2 separate regions of the Homo sapiens genome follow, and region 1 is linked to region 2. The links come from fine-mapping of genetic effects on gene expression. A gene starts in region 2. The other region holds a variant in brackets. All regions are shown on one strand. Distances are between the middles of the regions. Region 1 overlaps DLG1 (discs large MAGUK scaffold protein 1). Region 2 holds the start of DLG1 (discs large MAGUK scaffold protein 1).

Evidence for each region. PIP is the estimated chance that this variant, and not a neighbour inherited with it, causes the effect.
Region 1: its variant is fine-mapped to the expression of DLG1 in skeletal muscle (GTEx, PIP above 0.99).

The regions. Positions count from the first base shown.
Region 1 is chr3:197,174,255-197,184,379 of GRCh38, forward strand. All of the region lies in intron 5 of DLG1 (discs large MAGUK scaffold protein 1), which reads right to left. Among named protein-coding and RNA genes, the nearest start is that of MIR4797, 110 kb to the right of the region's middle. The variant T/C (reference allele first, on the strand shown) is at 4,648.
Region 2 is chr3:197,294,032-197,304,144 of GRCh38, forward strand. It overlaps DLG1 (discs large MAGUK scaffold protein 1), which reads right to left and starts at 4,581. Exons shown (of 25, transcript NM_001366207.1): 1 at 4,505-4,581; 2 at 3,155-3,204; 3 at 2,315-2,446. The coding sequence starts at 3,173. It overlaps DLG1-AS1 (DLG1 antisense RNA 1), which reads left to right and starts at 4,216. Exons shown (of 3, transcript NR_038289.1): 1 at 4,216-4,579; 2 at 4,947-5,061; 3 at 8,497-9,720. RefSeq lists silencers at 3,508-4,137, 4,628-4,757.

The DNA.
Region 1 (10,125 bases), 120 kb before region 2:
CTAACTATAAATGGTTTAATTCTGTTGCAATTCTTAGTCTACAATAAAAATAAGCCAATTCTCTCTCCCCAAAAACCATGGAAGCGACAATTTAAAAAACAAGGAAACAAGATATACATATGGAAATTTCAAGTTTCACCTACAGTTCTTTAAAATATCTTTAATTAAAAAGTCTATATAATAAAGCTGTGCTCTTACAACTGAAAAAATTTTGCCTCTATACTGAATATAGCCTTCCAGTTTGGAAAAAAAGTGATTAAAATGATATGATTTTTATTCTCTTTTCTTTGTTCTCCCTTCAAAATCCTGCTATGGTACTTAGTTTGGCTAAAGCAATTAATTCTTAATATTGATATGCATCTTGTTTGTTTTCTTTCTATCTTACAAAATACTTTCCAACTGATTTCTTTCCAAATTTATAACCCTTTGATACATCAGATCATCCTACCAAGATTAGTCAGATTTATATACAGATAAATGAGGGTGGGATCTGTTTTAATTTAAATGCCAGTTTATTGCTCTTGAACGTGGCTGTTAAAAAAAAATTAACAAATAATTAAACACCAGGTTATAATCCCCAATTCTTTTTCTCAGAACAACAAAACAACACAAATTGTAAAGCAATCATTTGGTTCCACTCTGTCACAGCTGTAACTTCTTCACATTTCAAAGCTGCTCCAGTCAAGAAGTCAGAGTTTTGATTTCACAGATACTGAAAATACTGTTCAGAAATGCTACCAAATTGGGGCTTAAAGGAAAAAGAATGAATAGGAAGTGCTCCTGTTACGAAGTGAGGAGGGAAAATCTTTTAAATAAATGCCTGGAGGGGCAAGTTGCGTGTATAGGCTTCTATAAAATTCCACTGCTCCCAGGTGGCACTGCCAGTTGGTTTGTATTTGCATACGCCTGTTAAAATTACCACATCAGTTGGTTTAAAGTTTTCTTTAAAAGGTGGTAACTGTAGGCTACTGTTCTCTACATAGTCTGAACAACTATTTTTACCTTTATCAAAATTCTAAACTTTGCTATAAAAATGGAGGGCTGGAAATGTTATCTAAATAATAGTGCCAGGAAGTACAAGGAATAATTTAAGAAAATTTATTTAAAGAGACTGATACTAAGTAAAATTTTCATGATAAAAATTTAAGTTCTTCAGATATGTAAGAGTATAAATGCTTCACAATTTTTTCACAGAAGGATCTGAATTACTTCTGAAATTCACAACTTTACAAAATCTGGTAACATAGACTTGCTAGTTTTTAAGCCATAGTGTTACATAAAAATGGCTTGGGAAATTTACAGTGATCCAACAATATTTAGAAGTTCCAAACTTCCACTTCGTCAACAGCAGATTAAATAAAAATTAACACCTGTATAACATCTGTTTATTCATTCAACAAATATTTATCAAGTGCATTCTCCATGCGAGGCTCTGGGGATACCAAGGGAAAAAACCACACACCCTGTAGCATCAGCTCTTGTGAAACTTACAGTTTAGTGGCTGACATTAAACAAAATCATTATCCAAATGACTACTGAATTAGAGTCGTGATAAGAGGTATGAAGTACAATTCTCATGCAAACAAACATTACTTGAAAATACAGGAGAAAAATGTTGCTCAGGCTGACTTGCCCTGATCCCATAAGCATGGTTCAGTCACTTTTCAGCACTGTTATTAACACATTATTTTAAAGGTTAACTTTAAAACTTCTCTGAATATATTTAGAATATATAAATTATAGCCTGTGAAACTTCTTTTTGCCTATCTATCCTTGACAGAAACGCCATCTAAACAATCAAGACACTATACAGAAGCTACAAAGAAGAATAAAACACATTTCCTAACTATAAAGACCTTATATCATAAATTTCAAATGTCTTCAAGCTAAGCCAATCTAATCTACATTAAGACACCAATTTTATAGTTTTTAATAGACTTTATATATTTTTTTAGAGCAGTTTTAGTTCCCATATGCCCCCTGCTCACACACATAAACTATCCATAATCAACACCCCTGCATTTCTAATGTACATTTGTTACAATCAATGAGCCCACACTGCCACATCACAAAGTCCATAATTTACATGAGAGTTGACTGTGGGGGCTGGATATTCCATGGGTTTTGACATGTGTTTAATGACGTTTCCGCCATTATAGTATCATACAGAATGGCTTTACTGTCCTAAAAATCCTCTGTGCTCTATTATTTATCCCTCTCACCTAACCCCTGGCAACCACTGATCTTTTTATTGTTTCCATAGTTTTGCCTTTTCCAGAACGTCATCTAGTTGGAAACAAGGGTGTGTATCCTTTTCAGGTTGGCTTCTTTCACCTGGTAATATTCATTTAAGGTTCCTCCATGTCTTTTCATGGCTTGATAGCTCATTTCTTTTAGTGCTGGGTGATATTCCATTGTCTGAATGCACCACACTTTATCCATGCACACACTGAGGAATATGTTGGTTGCTTCTAGGTTTTGGCAATTATGAACACAGCTGTTATAAACATCTCTGTACAGGTTTTTGGGTGGATGTAAGCTTTCAATTCATTTGGGCAAATACCAAGGAGTACAACTGCTGGATCGTATGGTCAATTTTGTAATTTAAAAAAGCTTATATAACCATTGTAACCAACTACTTTTGGTTTAATCTTCATCTCTATGCTTTTCTAGAGTGTCCTATTGAACAAATGATATAAATTTTATTTTTATTTTTTATATTATTTTTTATTTATTTTTATTTATTGTACAAATGATAAAAATGTGTTGAAACAGTGTTTAAGAACCAATTTTTGAGTCAGTACATGTAGGTGCACTGTAAAAGTTTCCAGAAAAACAGAAACATAAAATAGATCCTACAATATTTTTTGTGTCAAAGGGGGAACAATTGATTTCCAAGTCTGAGTCATCATATTAATTTCGCAAAGTTAGTAGCCTTTTGAGTAGAAAATTAAGAAACAAATGTGTCTGCCAAGGGTCAGCATCTCACAGCCAGTACAACAGCGTTTCCATCCAAACTGTGAATGTTTGGGGAGTCAATACCAAAGGAGACTATTTCCACCAATTTCTCTGGAAAATAACCTATCAATTAGAGTCAGTATTTTCAAAGCAGTTTAAGAAGATTGTCTACCTACCCTATACGTAGTCTACTTTTTAGTACAAAAGCACTACACTAATGAATATGAACAATTCCATTCCTTGGAGATGAAGAAAAAATATTTTATCAAAACACAATTATCATTACACATGAGACAAAATGAATGTGGTATGTACCGATAACACGGTTAGGTCAATCAATCTAGGATGGTCCAAGATGGAGATGTCTTGGTGTGAATTTCAGACCTGTTGCCTGGTGGGAATAGTCAGAAAATAAATGGTTATAACAGAGTGACCCCATATGCCTCTATTTACTTGGGAAGTCTGTATTTATGCCTGTTGTCTCACTTTAATTATTAATGATTCCCTCTTTTCATTAAAGTATCCTAGTTTGGTCTGAGTTATATAGTTATCCCAGTTTTGAGGAAATTGAATTCTCTTCTCTCCCTACCTCATTTCCTTGTGTGTATTTCTTCTCAGAGGGCAAGTAAGAATCATCAGTTAGAGAACTATTACAATGCTAAATAAAGTGTGATGCGCGCTTCACAGAAAGTCTAAGGGAAAAGACAGACAAACACACCTGCTTGGGCCCTCCTTAGCACAAGTTCGTATGTCCCTGTCTCTTCACTCATTCAACAAATATTTTCTGGTTATCTACAGTGTGCCAGCCACTGTCACAGAAACTGAGGATACAACAATAAACATAACAGAAAAATCCCACCCACATGGAGCTGACAGTCAAGTAAAAAGACAGTAAAAAATGTATAATAAAGAATCAGGTAAGAAGACAGAGTAATGTCTGGAGTGAAGGGGTGCTACCTTAGAGGAAGCAAAAAATATTAACGAGAGAAGTTAGATGTCTACTGCTGTAGTTCAGGCAACATATTATTGAATCAGTAGTTGCAGAAGTGTTGAAAAGTGGCCAAATCATAAATATATCTTGAATAAAAAGCCAACAGGATTTGGCATCAGACTGGATACGGAGCAAAGAAAAAAGGAATAAAAGATAATTTTAAGGGTTTTTGTCTTCAGCATCTTAGTGAATGGCATACTGAATAAAGAAGATTGAGACCAATAAAACTAGAAATTCTCTTTTTAATATGTTACCTTTCAGATGCTTAACCGAAGTGGAGATACTGAGTAGAAAGTTAGATATAAAAGTCTAATGTACAGGGATTAACTCTGGAATAAAGAGAAATACTGATGGTATTTAAGGGCATAGGACTAGATGCGATCACCTGAAATGTGAGTATAAAAAGAGAGTTCAAAGACTGAGCCCTGAGACATTTGAACATTTAGCAGTAGGAAAAAGGAGGATACTATAAAGGAAAATGAGGCTGGTAGAATATTAAAAGAGCAGTACTATCCACGAGTCAAAGGAGAAAAAAGAATTTAGAGGAGGGAGTAATCAATTGTGTTAACAGTTGTTGTAGGGTCAAGTAAAATGAACACTGAGAACTGGCCACTGGATTTGATAATCTACACTCACACAACGAGGGTTTTTTGGATGGTTGTTTTAATGAAAGATATTATAGCAGGTGTACATCCTGA[T/C]AGGACTTATAGAGGCAAGTCTAGGGGCAGTACAGAGGCAAGACAGATGATGCAGTGAAGAGAGAAAGGGATTTCAGAAGTTCTTGAACAACCAAAGGGACTACGATCTAGTACAGAAGTGAATATGGGTAAGCTTTAGGCACACAGTTCATTTATTTTAGCAGGCTGGAACACAAAGCAAGATTATTTATTTGAGAATAAGACCAGGAATCAGGTATTGGAAGTTTAACGTGCAGTCTGCGAGTTGGTATAGAGAAGGCAGAGCTGCAATCCGGATGGTCTGGACTTTCTGTGGTGACAGGCTAAAAGGGATTTAGGATCTAAAAATAGTCCTCATGATATGTTTGGGGGATGCTTAGGGGAGCTTGGTACCAAGTGGATAATCACTTAAATTTAGTCATCTACACGTGACTGGTTTTCACCAATTTGTAGAAGGGAGTGCTAGGAGGGGAGGAAAGGTCAAAAAACTGGTAGTCTCATCAAGAATTTCAAAGGCTCTTTGGGGCACCTCCCTTAAATCCTGTAATTAAAGGTGTTGAGATCTCTGGTTCTTAAAAAAAGTGGATGGCTTGTACTTACAAATTAACTTAATCAGTCAACAATATTTACTGAATGTTTGAATGTACTGCGCTATCCTAGGTGCAATAATTCCTAATAATCTATATCTGAATTTGTTCATATACTATTAGAGTTAAATGATATAAAAATAAGCTAACAGGGGCACCTAACTCTAATGTAGCACTTACTCTGTGTCAGATGCTGTCCTAAGTACTTTATTAATATATACATTAAATTATTTGGTAGAAGTGACTCAATGACACTGATACTGTTATTCTCTCTATTGGACAATATATCCAATGCATAGCTCTAAAAATTAAATCCTCTATAACTCAGAAGGCATCTGTTTCAGACAAACAATATTTTTTAAAGTGTACAAATTAGCCTAAATATTTTTCCACACAGGCACTTGAACAATGTTTTCCTATATTTTTGACTTAGGACAGGGTTTTTCCTCTAAGCAGATTATTCAACTCAGCTAATATTTACTCTTTAAGAAAACTTTATTATTCTATTTCAATTCTGACAAGTTTTCATGTCTGTTCCATATTCCTAAGAATACAGCTTTGCTGCTCTCAGCTTAATTTGGCATGTTGTGTTTTTTTTTTGGGGGGGGGGGGGCTTTTTGAGTATTTATAGTGCTCTATATGTTGAGATTTTCAAGTAGTCCAAAATGTATGAATAGCTGCTATACACACATTCAAAATGACTGAACACTTCACAGTTATTTAAAGTTCATATGATTACTACTGACATTAATAAACGTCGATATCACTAAGTAAATAAAACTTTTCACCTAGGCGTTAATCAAGTAAAGTCTAGCAGCACTGTGCTGGAGTTCTATAAAACCCTGCTGAATATAAAAACTGGTCCCAGATTGGAACAGGACTGTGTATGCTAAGTAGGACGGGGCCGATTATTGAGTGACCCTCAACACAAGAATAGGAGGGACGCTGAGGGTGCGGAACCAAGGAGGGCTTCGCAATGCATAGAGAACTTTTTCTATACTAATCGTTTGAAATTAAGGACAAAAACACTATGAAGCCTCAAACTGAAAAAGTTTCACCAATGTAATTCATAAGAAACTCATTTTTATTTAACATTAAAAAATAAAACAACCTCTCAAAAAACCCACAATGTAAAATGAGATACAATGAAATGATAAAACTGAGAGACAGTGTGTAAGCTATTTGGTTATCACTACTGAGTGGGGACTGAAAGGGGTGAGGAAATCAGGGGAATCGGGGCAGTGTGACTGGAGGATAGTATGAAGAATGGAGGGGAAGAAAAGGCAGTGGAAAAGGAGATGGGCTGCTGTGAAAAACCAAAGACACTTGTGAGGGAAGAGAGAAGATCCAATCAATACAGGTACTGAAGAGGTATTAGATTAGGTGTCATATTTTGGAAGGCCAGGAGATAACATTTGAGGTGAATGGAATAAAAATTAATTAATTCTATAAGCATTTATTAACACCAACTACATGCCAAACCCTAACTGAGAAGCTAGGTGTCTTGCAAAAGTTTATAACCACTCAGTTTCCTTATCATTCAAAAAACATTAATGACTTCCTCCTGAGTTCCAGTATCATAGTAGAAAATGGCACATAATCTTAGTTATGAACATGAATACCTCCAGCAGACAAGCAATTTAAATGAATCTGTAAAATAAGTACAGGTTCTTTTTATGTATTGTGTATATTTGGGGGGATATTAAATCAGATACTTTTCATACTGTATTTGGGGGGGATACTAAACCAGATAGTTTTCATACTAATAGAACTTGATTTATAACAACTCTCCAATCTGCAAAAAGTATCATGTGGCTTAGTCATATGGAATTAGATTCAAAGTTAATCTTTCTGTCAAATCTTAGAGTATTTTTGACATCAGTGAAATAAGAGACCTCTGTTATTTACCAATCGCAGTACAAAACACTATGACCTTATTATATTCATAGGTATATATTATATGCTCTAAGTATGAAATTTCAATCTACGTTGTTTCTAACAATAAATCCCTTAGTGCTGCAAAAGAAAGCTGCCAGCCATGAGTCAGTAAGTGCAATTTAAAAAAGTATTCTAGTATCAAGTAAGATCCAATTATATCTCAAGTTATTTTTCAGTCCCATTATATTTTAACTTGTCAAATCAACTCCAGTAAGTTATAAAAAAATTAAGATATATAAACTATCCAATGTATCAGTTACAAAAATGTATAAAATGAAAAACAAAATGTTGGTACTCCAGTGCAAGAAAAACAGAAGCTAAAACCTCTACCCTAATACTCCTATTTCTAGAAATAAAATAGAAAGGTAATGAAAAAGACAAGATGAGAATCAGGAAAGAGGTCTGAAAGAAATAAAAACTATTAATAACTCATATACTAGCATACAGGAATGCTCTGAACCAAACTGGGTGGGGGCTGTCATGTAAAATGGCTTTGCAGAGCTGACTGCGAACAGGGGTCATGACTCTCTTCTGGCGCAATCACAGCAACGTTCTGCTCCTACTCCCAAGCGGCTATAACGTAACTCTGTGGTTTCAACACTTTATACATGAACTACTTTTCCTGTCTTTTCATTTGCCTGCTTTTAATAAACCGAGTGACAGATATATCAATGCTAGTGTTATCTGTGCATACATATATAGAAGGGTGTGCATTTACATAAACCATATATATATATAAAAAGTTCTAAAGATATCTGTCTTGTTGACAATGGAAAATATCATCTAGTATTAATCTACAATGAATAACATTGTCAACCTTTAGTCTTTGCATCCTTTCGTGATATATGTAATTGCAGTCAAAATAAGGTTAGTAAAATTCTTGGGGCAGTATTCAATTTAAGAGTTAAATCAATCGTTGCCCATTCAATAAGTTTTGATTGTAACTTAACCTCAATGCCTACATAATGACTCCCCCTTCCTAGGTAATTCCATTTCTCCCAAATATTTGAGAAAAGTAAGTAGAATTTCTTACTTAAGAAAGCTGATGTTATTTTAAATCAACACCATTAAAAGACAATTCTAGTAACCAAAAACAGTAAAGAAATTTATAAAAAACATATAAAGAAATATAGAACTGTTGACAGTTATAGTTTATATTTATTGAGCTGCTTCTATTATTTTCTTTAAAAGACAGCTTTAAGGGAATTTATTTTAAAAGGTCCTAAGGAATGTGTATGTATGTATTTTCCTAATTTAAATATCACTGATGTCAGAGGACAAATGCATTCTCAACTTGTTTTTAGACCATTTCTCGTCCTTTTATTTTTACTAAAGTTGAACTGACTGCTTAAAAATATTTAGAAATATGAATATTTCCTCAAACCACCCTTGTAGCAAACAATAGGTATTTCAAACAATTATTAATTTTTCTTTATTTTTCCTCCCATAGACAATAGCTCATTTCCTCAAAAAGTGGTGTTATGTGATTTTTTTTAATTTTGAGAGACTTTTAGTATTTGCTCATCTCTTTAAATTGTGATTTGACTATGTGAAAAAATATTCCATGACTGTGTAATTGCACAAGTTCACTTAATTTCAAATTAAGCTAGATAAATAATATTTACAAAAAACGATTCATTAAATCCCTTGAATAAGCCATAATATAGCTAAGATGTCAGTATATATAATACTAGCCAATTATATTAAATTGAATCTATTTTCAAAACACTGAAAAATGAAAATATTTCAAAGTATCTTCTGTTTCTTTACTGTAACAGTCTCCCTAAGGTTATCTAATAACATACAAAAACTAAACAAATCAGCATTTTCTTTGGTCAGACATCATACTCTACAGCATTTAGCACAGTCTAAAAAGGAGATGAGCATTATTAATTCATATTTTATGTATCAATGGGCTTATATTTTTAGAAAAGTCATTCAATTGAATCTGAGGCTATTTTGTTTGGTATTACATAAGAGCATAAGGAAAAATATTTCTTGTTCCCCCTTTTGTGCTAAAGACCTACACGGATGGACAGAAAACATACATTTCTACACATCCAAGGTTTCAAGGCTATTCTTTAAATAAAAAATCTATATTAAGACATTTTTACAGAGCAAACGTAAACAGAAATAGATTGAAAATAATTTCAACAAGTGGTATGTTACCTGGGTGGAGCTGGTGGCTACCGAGATGCAGTCAATAAAGCTGTGTCTTCGAGTGAAAAATGCAACTATCTGCTGCCAGCGTGAAGGTTCTGGCTCAGCTTGCAGTTCATCTGACGAGCCCTTTTTTGCCCAGTGTTTCTGCTTTGGGCCTGCTGAGCCATGGCTAGAGCTAGTATTGCCTCCTCGACTGCCGCGAGAGTATAGAAGTGTGTTGTTTCCGAAAATGTAATTCATCTCTGCAGCCCTGCAGGTGGTTGCCAAGCAGGCTTACTTCTCTACCAGCTGCTGAGTGGTGAATGATCGGTAAAAACTGCAGCTACAATTACAGCAGCATCACTTGTAGATCAGTGAAAATAAAAACCTTGAGAAATGATGCTCATTTTCTCAGTGATTTCTTCCTATGAAAGAGCTCGTATCTTCCCTCTGTACCTGTTAGCTGTATGATGGCTGAGTTTATTTTTGCAGACAAAAAAGACGACATAAGGTGGATTTCTTTCTCATGATTATTTTTTCACCAGCGTCTGCAGGAACCAAAAGCTGTTCTTTTGTTAGCTGATAACTAGATGGATTGAAATCCAGGAAGTGAGGTCGATTAGCAGGTAAAGAAGGATGCTATAAACACTGGACTACCAAGACCCTGTGGGGCTGCCTGATTTAATGCACTGCGTGGAAAAACCCTGGATTACCAAGTTTCAACCACAGTCTGTAGTAAAATCCAATGGCACCTTCACTGCTTATATAAATTATAAATATGAACTGAATTAAAACATATAAGAGGATTCTCTCTGCAAATAGTTCTGACTGT
Region 2 (10,113 bases):
TTTCAAAACAATGGTAGAGTTGCAAAATACAAAGAAAATCTTATCAGACTAAACATTTTCAGACTAAGTATTAAAAGTTATTCAGGAAACACAAGAGAATGTATTTATTCCGTAGTATCAACAATTATAGCATGGAAACACACAGAACCTCTATTAAACGTTATCTATTTCAAAACTCCTAAAATCTATTACTTGTCTTACACCAAAATGTGATATAGTACCACATCCTATAGAACATTAAATATAAGTAAATTTAAATGTCAAAGTAAATTCACAACCAATGAAATTAGAAGATTCACAAATATAAACTTAGTAATTAGGAAGCTAACTCTAGGCCAGACGCGGTGGCTCACGCCTGTAATCCCAACATTTTGGGAGGCCGAGGTGGGTGGATCACGAGGTCAGGAGATCGAGACCATCCTGGCTTACACAGTGAAACCCCGTCTTTACTAAAAATACAATACAAAAAATAAAAAATTAGCCGGACGTGGTGGTGGGCACCTTTGGTCCCAGCTACTCAGGAGGCTGAGGCAGGAGAATGGCGTGAACCTGGCAGGCGGAGCTTGCAGTGAGCGGAGATCTCGCCACTGCACTCCAGCCTGGGTGACAGAGTGAGACTCTGCCTCAAAAAAAAAAAAAAAAAAAAAGAGAAGAAAGCTAACTCTATCAAAGTTCAATTGTACGTAAGAATAGACACATTCAAAACAGGCAAGGCAGAATAGGTCAAAAATGTCTCTGAACACAGCAAACCCATCCCCAATCTAGACAGAAATATAAATGTAGATTCTGTTATTTCACTAACGATTTAATTTTCTTAAGTTACAGCCATCACACAAAGAAAAGTCTGCAGTCTATCTATCTGCCTATCTATACATATATGTATATATATATCTCTATACTGTTGCGAAAAAACATACTTTTTTTGCAACAGTAACTGCACCAAATTACTAGGCTCAATGTTGATTTAGAAAACAAATAACTAAAAAATGCTTTTTGCTGTTTTTCCAGAGGAATCCAATTTGATCATCCATTCGGACCTTAAACCTCAGAAATTCAAATGTGTAAAAAATGTCCATCAATGTAAACAAAAATGGCAAAATGTGAATTTCTGGAGCTGGGTAACAGTTAAAAGGCAGTTCATTACACTGTGCTATGTATCCTTATGTTTTTAAAAGTCTATTAAAATGTTACATTTTTCAAAATTGTTCAGGTGCATCAAGTGGTCTTTACAAAAATCTTTCATTCTAAAACCGTAGAGAGCATCCATTTATCAATAATGTACCTGACAGGACACACTGACTTGAAAGTAGTCTTCAAATCACACCAACAATTATTCTATCAACAGATAGATGTAAGGCCATATCTGACTGGAAGTTACTGAAGAAATAAATGTAATATAATTAAGTATATGTCTTCTTATGTTAAAATGTTATATAGTTGATAACTAAAACAAAAAAAAAAAACTTCATTCTTAGAATTGGAAGAGACAAACTTTCTAGTTCGGTGGTTTGCAAACTTTTTGAGGTACCTGGACAAAAGAGCCAGACAAGTCACCTTGTTTTATACATAGGAGATTATACACAAAATATGAGATGATGCTTTTAAAAATGATTTATCTACTTAAAAAAGGCTTTAAACCCATTCTGTCATTTCAACAGCTACATTCTACAGCTAATATGGTGGCATAGAAAAGATTAAATGACTTGGGATATATCATTCAATTAGTGGCAAAAGAACTCAGGACTCTTATTTTTCCAGTTCTTTCAAACAATGCACCACTTCAAATTAAGTTACAATTAAGAATAAAACTTTCCATTTTCTTGCCTGTAAAATACGGTTACTAGACAAGATCATCTCTAAGATTATTTTCCAGGTCTAAAATTCTGACTCCATGAATGCCAAGCTCAAACAGAAATCTACATTAAGGGAATGAATGTTCTTCAACACAGCAGAACCCTTCACACGCTTTCAATGACTTCAGAGACATGCCAGTCAAATACAGAAACAAGCTCACAGTAACTCAGTCATACCTTTTAGGTCCTTAAACATCTGTGCAACATCTTTTAATAGTTAATGCTATTAAGATGTGAAACAATGTTCTCAAAAGCCACTGAAATAATCCTGAAAGTTTTTTGGTTACTAGTTATTTTAAGAAAGGACACTGGCCTATGAAAAACACACAACTCACTGAAGATGTTCAAGTTACCGAATGCCTCAGAGAATTAAGTACATCATTTTCTTAAGTTTAAAATAAATGAATTGAGAGGAGCATAAAGCCTAGCTGGCATAATAGTTACGAAGTTTTAATTCCCACCTATTAAAGCCTGAAAGAGGTTGCTCTGAAATATGTTAATAACCCGTTCTATGGAACTTCTGAGCTGTCTGTCTTCAGTTTGGCTTAGTTTTGAACGATATTCCTCCAAAAGGTGCAATGCTCTCTGGGTATCTGAGAAGAAAAAGCAGAGCCTGATTAAAACTCTCTATTTACAAAAAAAGTATCACATACTAGTGCAAATAATTCTGCATGACATCTAAATAGTTCCGCAAATCCTTCAGGTCAATTGATGTCACTATGTTCATGTACACATATTCCTTAGAATGACCAAAAAATAAAAAAAAAAATTAAAGAAATACAAGAAAAATTTAAACATATATCACATTAGAAAACGGAGGAGAGTGAGCAGTTTGGAATAAATGTGTACTGGTAGTTTGCCAAAGTAAAAGATCAAAGTATTAGCAACAGTTTCAGATTACCTGATAATGCAAAAGCAGATTATCTACAATTTGTCATCATAATCCAAATTTTTAACATTTCAAAATACAAATTCTTAGTATCCCACAGTTGCTTACAGAATAGTGCTTAGTAAGAATGATAGAGTGAAATACTAAAACACCAATTCAGGGTTATTAAGGACATCTGTTGGGGGGGGGCTAACTGCCTCTCTTAATCACTAGAGAAATGTTAAGAAAGTTTAACAAACATTTTCGTGTTTCCATCTTCTGAAATGATATGAGGCTTAGATTCCCTAAGCAATAAAGCTAGGACCGTGCTGTCTCATCAAAGTTACACAAACGATTCTAAAACGGCAATCAAAAAACTGACACACGGAAAAGCAAGTGACATCGACAACAGAGTTACGGAATAAACTCTCACCTTGCTTCCGGACCGGCATTTTTCTCCAGAATCAGGAAGAGGGCACACACCTTTAAAACACACAACGGAAAGGAAAAAGGATAGAATCATGTTAAACTAGCATTTTCCCCTATCGAAATAGAAAACCCTCGCAGCCTATTTGAAAACCCCACGTTCCAAAGTTTTACCAAGTCAAAGAAAGAGTCTCAAAACGCAGCAGTTGTCTGTCAACGTGGAAAGCTTTTCCTTGGAGTGGGTACCCCTCCAAATTAAGAACAGACAGAAGTCGGCTTCCAAACTCTCCTCGAAAGCGTCCCCTCCCCAAAGAGCCTAGACCTGAGGCCGCCTCTTCCCCCGCACAAGTATCCACACTCCCCACCTGCTACTGGGTACGGGCGGGTGAAGCGCTCCGACCCTTGGCCCCTGAGCCAGCAGCGGCCGCAGAGCGCTGAGAGGGGACCAGCGGGACTGGCCGCCCGCCCTGCTCGGGCCCCCTCCTCTCGCTTGCCTTTCTCCTTGCTCGCTGCCTCCGGGCTGCTCCAGCGGGGGCCGGACAGGGCAGCGGCCGCTCTCCGCGACGCCCTCGCGCCCCGCATGCACACCTCCGCGGGCCCCCACACCTGCGGCGCCGCCACAAAGTTCCGGTGAGCGGCGTGCGCTCGGAACTGGGGTGCGCCCCGGCCAGACTCGGAGCAGCTCCCCAGCCCGGCCCCGCTCCACGTACCCCCGCCCCGCCCGGGGCCCGCGGAGCCGAGCGGAGGGGGCGAAGGGACGGGGGAGGAGCTCCCCTGGGCCGCCGCACCCCCGCGGCCTCGTCCTCCTTCTCGGCCGCGCCGCCTCCTCGCTCGCCGCGGCCCCCCGGCCCGCTCGCCCAGTTGCTGCCGCACGCCCCACCCCCGGAACCTCGCCTCCTTCCGCGCCCCCAACCGCTCTCCCCCGAAACTTTCCGCCAAGATGGCGGCCCCCGAGCTGGCCTGCCGCGCTCCCACGTGACCGCTTTCCCGGCGCTCTCAGCCAATGGGAAGTGAGGAGGCGGCTCGCGCCGAGCCCCGGGCTCCCCGCGCTGCTACCTTCGGGTTGGAAGGGGGAGGCGGGTCGGGGGAGGGCAGGGGAACGGAAGGGGTACCCGGGGAGCATCCTAAGGGAACCTCTTCGCTTAAAAGGGCGGCCGCTGAAGTGGCTCTGAGAACAAAGGAGTTAACACTCGGACTCCACAGGTGGCCCGGGGTGGCCCTGGAGGAGCCCGCCTTTACCTTGCCCTAGCCCACCGGCGCGTCCCGCAGTTCCGAACTAAACGCGCCAGGCCGGGAAGGCTCGGGCTGTCTGAAGAGAGGCGTGACCTCGCCTACACCAGATCCAAGGCGCACATACCGAGACACCCCTCAACCTCACTCAGCAGTGCCGTTTCCAACTCCGCGGCAGAGACAGCGCCTGGCGACCCCGGGGGTAGATCCCCACCGGGGAAAAGCCGCCTTAAGGAGGAGCCAACTGCACCTCCCAGGGGGCGGGGAGGGCGGGGCCTGGGAGAGGGAGAGGGAGGAGTTCGGGGAGGGGTGCCAACTCTGCATTGCCTTCCACTCCAGGCTGATTGTTAAGTTACTCTTCGTCCCTTAGTAATAGGCTTGGGGGGAGGGGTTTCATTACAGAAGGACATATGAAATAGAGACACTGGTTAACTTGGCAAGAGTTTGAGGGTTATAGTACAAGATTTTTAAGCCTAACTGATTAATTCCGAGTATGGTATACTTAAGGGTGGGCAGAGAAGGTTTGTTCATTCATTCGCTCATTCATTCATTCATTCATTTCCCTCAAGCCTGCGTCCCCGCCCGGTCAGCATCGCAGGTGTTACCCAAACTCTGACGGTCCCTTTAAGAACTCACCCGGAGTCGCGCCCTCCGAAGCTGAGCCGCCCTCGGCCAGCGCTGCAGGTTTGTTTCGTGCGCACCTCCGGGCGGAATTACCGGCCGGCTGGGACCCCGCTCCCGGTCTGAGCCACCCAGGTTATAGAAGGGGAATCTCGGGAAGCTTTCCAAGTCACTGCCCACGTCTTCGAACTTCCTCGGGGTGACGAGGACCTCCCTATTAGGAGGTCCAGAGAGAATTTGCCCAAAGTTACCCCGAGTGAGTGACAGAACTGGAAACCCGGAGATCCTGTCTTTCAAAACCGGAAGGCTCTTCCCAGTAAACCTGACGGCCTCTGACTGAGGCCGTATCCATTGGCTACCAAAGGGAAGGCCGAGGAACCTCGTATTGTAACCTTAACAGCTACTCAGAGGTATACTGACCACTGGTTTTACTTTTGGATTGCACCTTAGAATCCTAACTTACTGTAAGGACCCACCGACTTTAGAACCTATCTAGGACAAGGAACCGAGGTCCGGAAAAAGGGAAGCAACTTGTCCAAGGACATAGACGCTAATCAGTAACAGAGCAGCCGAGAACTCAGGTCTCCTAGCTCTAGTCCAGGGCTCTTTCTCTTGTGATTTTGGACAACTTGACAGAGAGGTATGTTGGTATGTTGGCAGCAGACCTCTGTGCTTTCCCGGATCAAGCATCCTGGGATCTTGAACAACAGTTAAAGCAACATTGCATAGAGAAAATGGGATAGAAGGGTCAAACGGTGCTGAAGGCAGAGGTGTCCTAACAGCCGGGAACTTAACAGAGGGACGGAATTTATTTAGTAGTGAAAGTGGCTCATGACAGGCATCATACTCTCAAGACTTCGCTGATGGACTGTGAATGGGATGGTTGCAGTAAGAAACCATTCTAACAATGGAATCTCTTCAGAATTCAGAAGAAACAGGGAGGGAAATTTGCCCTCTCCCTTGATAACATTTATTGTTCATATATGTTCACTTGCTAGGAAACGGGGATAGAAATAAATAAGATCCGAGTCCTGCTCTCAAGGATACACAGCCTTGTAGCAAGTACACAAAGGCCAATGCACCTTTTCCCAGGGGACACTGAGGAGTCAAAAACAAAATTTGTGTGAGTTCTCAATGTCATCCTAGCCTTCCCCTAAAAGCAAAAAGGAGGAAGGGGAGGAAAGAGGACGTGTCCTTTTTTCTTGTCATTCTGTGTGACAGCCCTATTTGGTTGTCAGCGGTGTACAAAAGCAGCAGTGAACCCAGCACTTGTTCTACCCTTAGCCTAAGGTGCCGGCAGCAAGTGCCTAGCAAATGAACATATATGAACAATGAATAAAGGCTCTTTACTCTTCATTCCTCCTTTCTACCCATCTTTATTAGTTACTTATTGCTGGATAAAAAAAAAGTTCCTCAAAGCTTAAGGGTTTAAAACTTATTAGCTTAGTAAGTTAAACAGCGATAAATATTATCTCAGTTTCTGTGTGTCAGGAATTCAGGAGCGGCATAGTTGGGTGGTTTTGGCTCAGGGCATTATGATGTTGCAGTCAAGAAGCCTGCCAGGGCTGCAGTCATCTGAAGGCTTCAGGGGGACTACGGGAGGCTCTTTCAGCATGGATCATTCACATAGCTAGTAAGTTGATGCTGGCTATTGGGCGGAGGCTTCAATTTCTCACCATGAAGACCTTTCTATAGGGCTGCTTGAGTGTCTTCATGACGTAGCGGCTGACGTCCAACAGAGCAAGTGATTCAAGATGGCGAGACAGAAGAAGCCACAATGCCTTTCATCACTTAGTCTCAAAAGTGACACTCTGTCATAGTCTGTTTGGGCTGCTATAACAAAATACCTTAGACTGGGTGATTTATAAACAACAGGAATGTATTACAGCTCTAGAGACTAAGTAGTCCAAGATCAAAACACCATCAGATGTGATCTAACAGTCATGAGAATAAAAATTAAAAAAAAAAAAATGGCCAGGCGCGGTGGCTCATGCCTGTAATATCCAGCACTTTGGGAGGCCAAGGCAGGTGGATCACGAGGTCAGGAGTTCAAGACCAGCCTGGCCAAGATTGTGAAACCCCGTCTCTACTAAAAATATAAAAATTAGCCAGGCATGGTAGCAGGCACCTGTAATCAACTATTCAGGAGGCTGAGACAGAGAATTGCTTGAATCCGGGAGGCGGAGGTTGCAGTGAGCCGAGATCGCGCCACTGCACTCCAGCCTGGGCGACAGAGCAAGACTCTGTCTTAAAAAAAAAAAAAAAAAAAAAAAAAAAAAAAAAAAAAAAAACACCAAGAGATTCAGTGTCTGGTAATAGCCCCATTCCTCATGAATGGAGCCTTCTTGCTACATCTTCCCATGGTGCAAGGGACTAACAAGCTCTATCTGGCATCTTTTATAAAGGCTCTAATCCCATTTAGAAGAGCTCCACTTTCAAGACCTAATCACCTCCCAAAAGCCTCATCTCTTAATATGATCACTTTGAAGGTGAAGATTTCAACGTATTAATTTAAGAAGGACACAAACATTCAGACCATAGCATACTCCATAATATCCGATCAGTTACTTAGATCAGCCTCAAGGATATGAATACCAGAAAGTAAGACTCACTGGAGGCCATCTTCTTGGAGCTGGCTACCACATCATCACAACATACAAAGCAATGACATCTGGATTTTTCTTTTCTTTTTTTTTTTTTTTAGACCGAGTCTTGCTCTGTTGCCAGGCTGGAGTGCAGTGGTACGATCTCGGCTCACTGCAACCTCTGCCTCCCGGGTTCAAGCTATTCTCCTGCCTCAGCCTCCTGGGTTGTTGGGACTACAGGCATGTGCCACCACGCCCAGCTAATTTTTTGTATTTTAGTAGTGACGGGGTTTCACCATGTTGGCCAGGATGGTCTCGATCTCCTGACCTCGTGATCCACCCGCCTCAGCCTCCCAAAGTGCTGGGATTACAGGTGTGAGCCACTGCACCCAGCCCTGACATCTGGATTTTTCTAAGCAACTTTTATTTCCTCAAAGTTTTCCTTACTTTGTGCAGTGAGCAGCTGCCATTGAATAGGACACAATATTGGATCTAATTTTCCAACTTCCTCATTAAATATATATATATATACACACACACTATATCTATCTATCTATCTATCATCTATCTATCTATCTATCTATCTATCTATCTATCTATCTATCTATATCTGTCCTATCTGTCTGTCTATCGATAGTTAGATAGACGAATAGAAGAAGTTACTTCAACAAAATACTAGCAGGTAAAGCTGTTCACTTTCCAGCTCCAAGTTAACTTGCCTTTTGAAGAGCTTAAAAGGCTTCGGAGTCAAAGACCATGGGGAAAGGCTCAGATTTCCCATTCTTTTATTGAAATGTCAGAGAGTCAATGTCAAAGATACTGTCTCTAAGTTCCAACCCTTCCCTTCCCAACCATCCTGCCCAAGCCACCTTTGCAGCTTCACATCTCTGTCTTTGTCTTCTCCTCCATCTAGGCCCCAGCTTATAAATCTATGAAGGTGTCCAGGTCCTGCCAGACTCCGCTGCATCTTTTGCTTTCACTCCAGCAGGGTAGCAGCATGCTGCCTGTGCCAAGGCAATCACTAAAAGGAAAGGATTTAATGCTGTCAAAAAAGCTTATGCCAGCTTAGGCTGCAGGAAGAGGAACAGTGTCAAGTATGTTGAAAGTGGACATATTGGTCAGACCTCCATGAGAGCCTAGGGGGCATTGCTTAGCAGCACGCTTTTAAAGGAATCTGAACAAACCAGCATGTGGAAAGAAGAGAGTAACCACAGCAATCAGGAAACAACTGTACAATCTAGGGCCATTTCATTGGAAAAACAGAAGTCTCCAGGGAGCTGCAGTCATCAAACAGGCTTATTCTGTGTACCCAGTGGGCAAGTACAGTCAATGGATGAAAATTCAACCAATGGACAAACACAGGAAGTTTTTCCTTAACATGAGTTGTCAGAAACTGTCCAAAATTCCAAAGAGCTGCCTCAAGGTAGTGGAAATTTTTTTTTTTTTTTAATCAGGAAGGTGCTGAATGAAGCCAGCAAGGATTCTGTGTCAGAGGGTGGTAGATACCCAGGACATAAGGTTGAACCACGTGACCTCTGAGACCACAGTTCTAAGCTGTTGAAACCTCAGTCCCTGCTGAATACTGAAATGGTATTAGCACCCTTTAGTCTACATCAAGAATTCGTTCTACCCAGTTTTGGTGGTACCAAGACTGATCTCTTTCTCATAGATAATTCTTAACAGAATAAAAGCTACAGGTTGAAACCAATTCCCTTTAAAATGTGGACAGTTGACCATCTCCATGATAGGTAGTTAGGCACTGAATTAATGCTTTTTAATGGAAGAGCCACCCTAAGATTCCTGGAGTGTGGTATAATGGAGTACTAAATCAGCATAGGACTAATAACTGCCTCCCGTGTAAACTGGTCTATCCGGAGAGTGGTATAGCCTCTCATACAGTGTTCAAAGGCAGATTTAACTCACTGCAGGTCCACAGCAACCGATAAGATAAACTCGTTGGTTATGGTCTCCCACTTTGCAAAGGAGAGCACAGAGGAAGAGGAAACTGAGATAACTTGGTTTAGGACCCCACAGCTGGCTGGAGCTGGGCTGAACATTAGTTCATTGTTTCTTCGATTAATCTATGCTGCTTTTTCTCTACTTGGCTCCTTTTCTAAATTAAACAAAACAAAACAAAAAACACTGGGCACAGAGTGGTGTATATGTGTGTGAGAGAGAGACAGAGATAGAGAAAGACTAAGCGAAAGAGAAAAGAGAGAGGCTGAGTGAGATTCAGATAAAATAAGGCACAAGTCATGGGCTAGTCTGTTGTACAGTGTACTTGTCATATATTTGAATGCCTTTAACAATGGAGACAGTTTTGATGGAAATAGGGCCTTGAAGAAATGCATATCCGCACCCTGGTGGTATGTTATAACTAAACGGGTTGGTTTTTTGTTTCGGAGTTTTTTGGGTTTCTTTTTAATGCAAAGGTATATATTTAAAATACCCTGTAGCTTCCTTCTCTCCTTCATTTCATTTCCTTAAGTATGAGAGAGGTTTTCTGGATGACGGGACATCCAAACTGGAA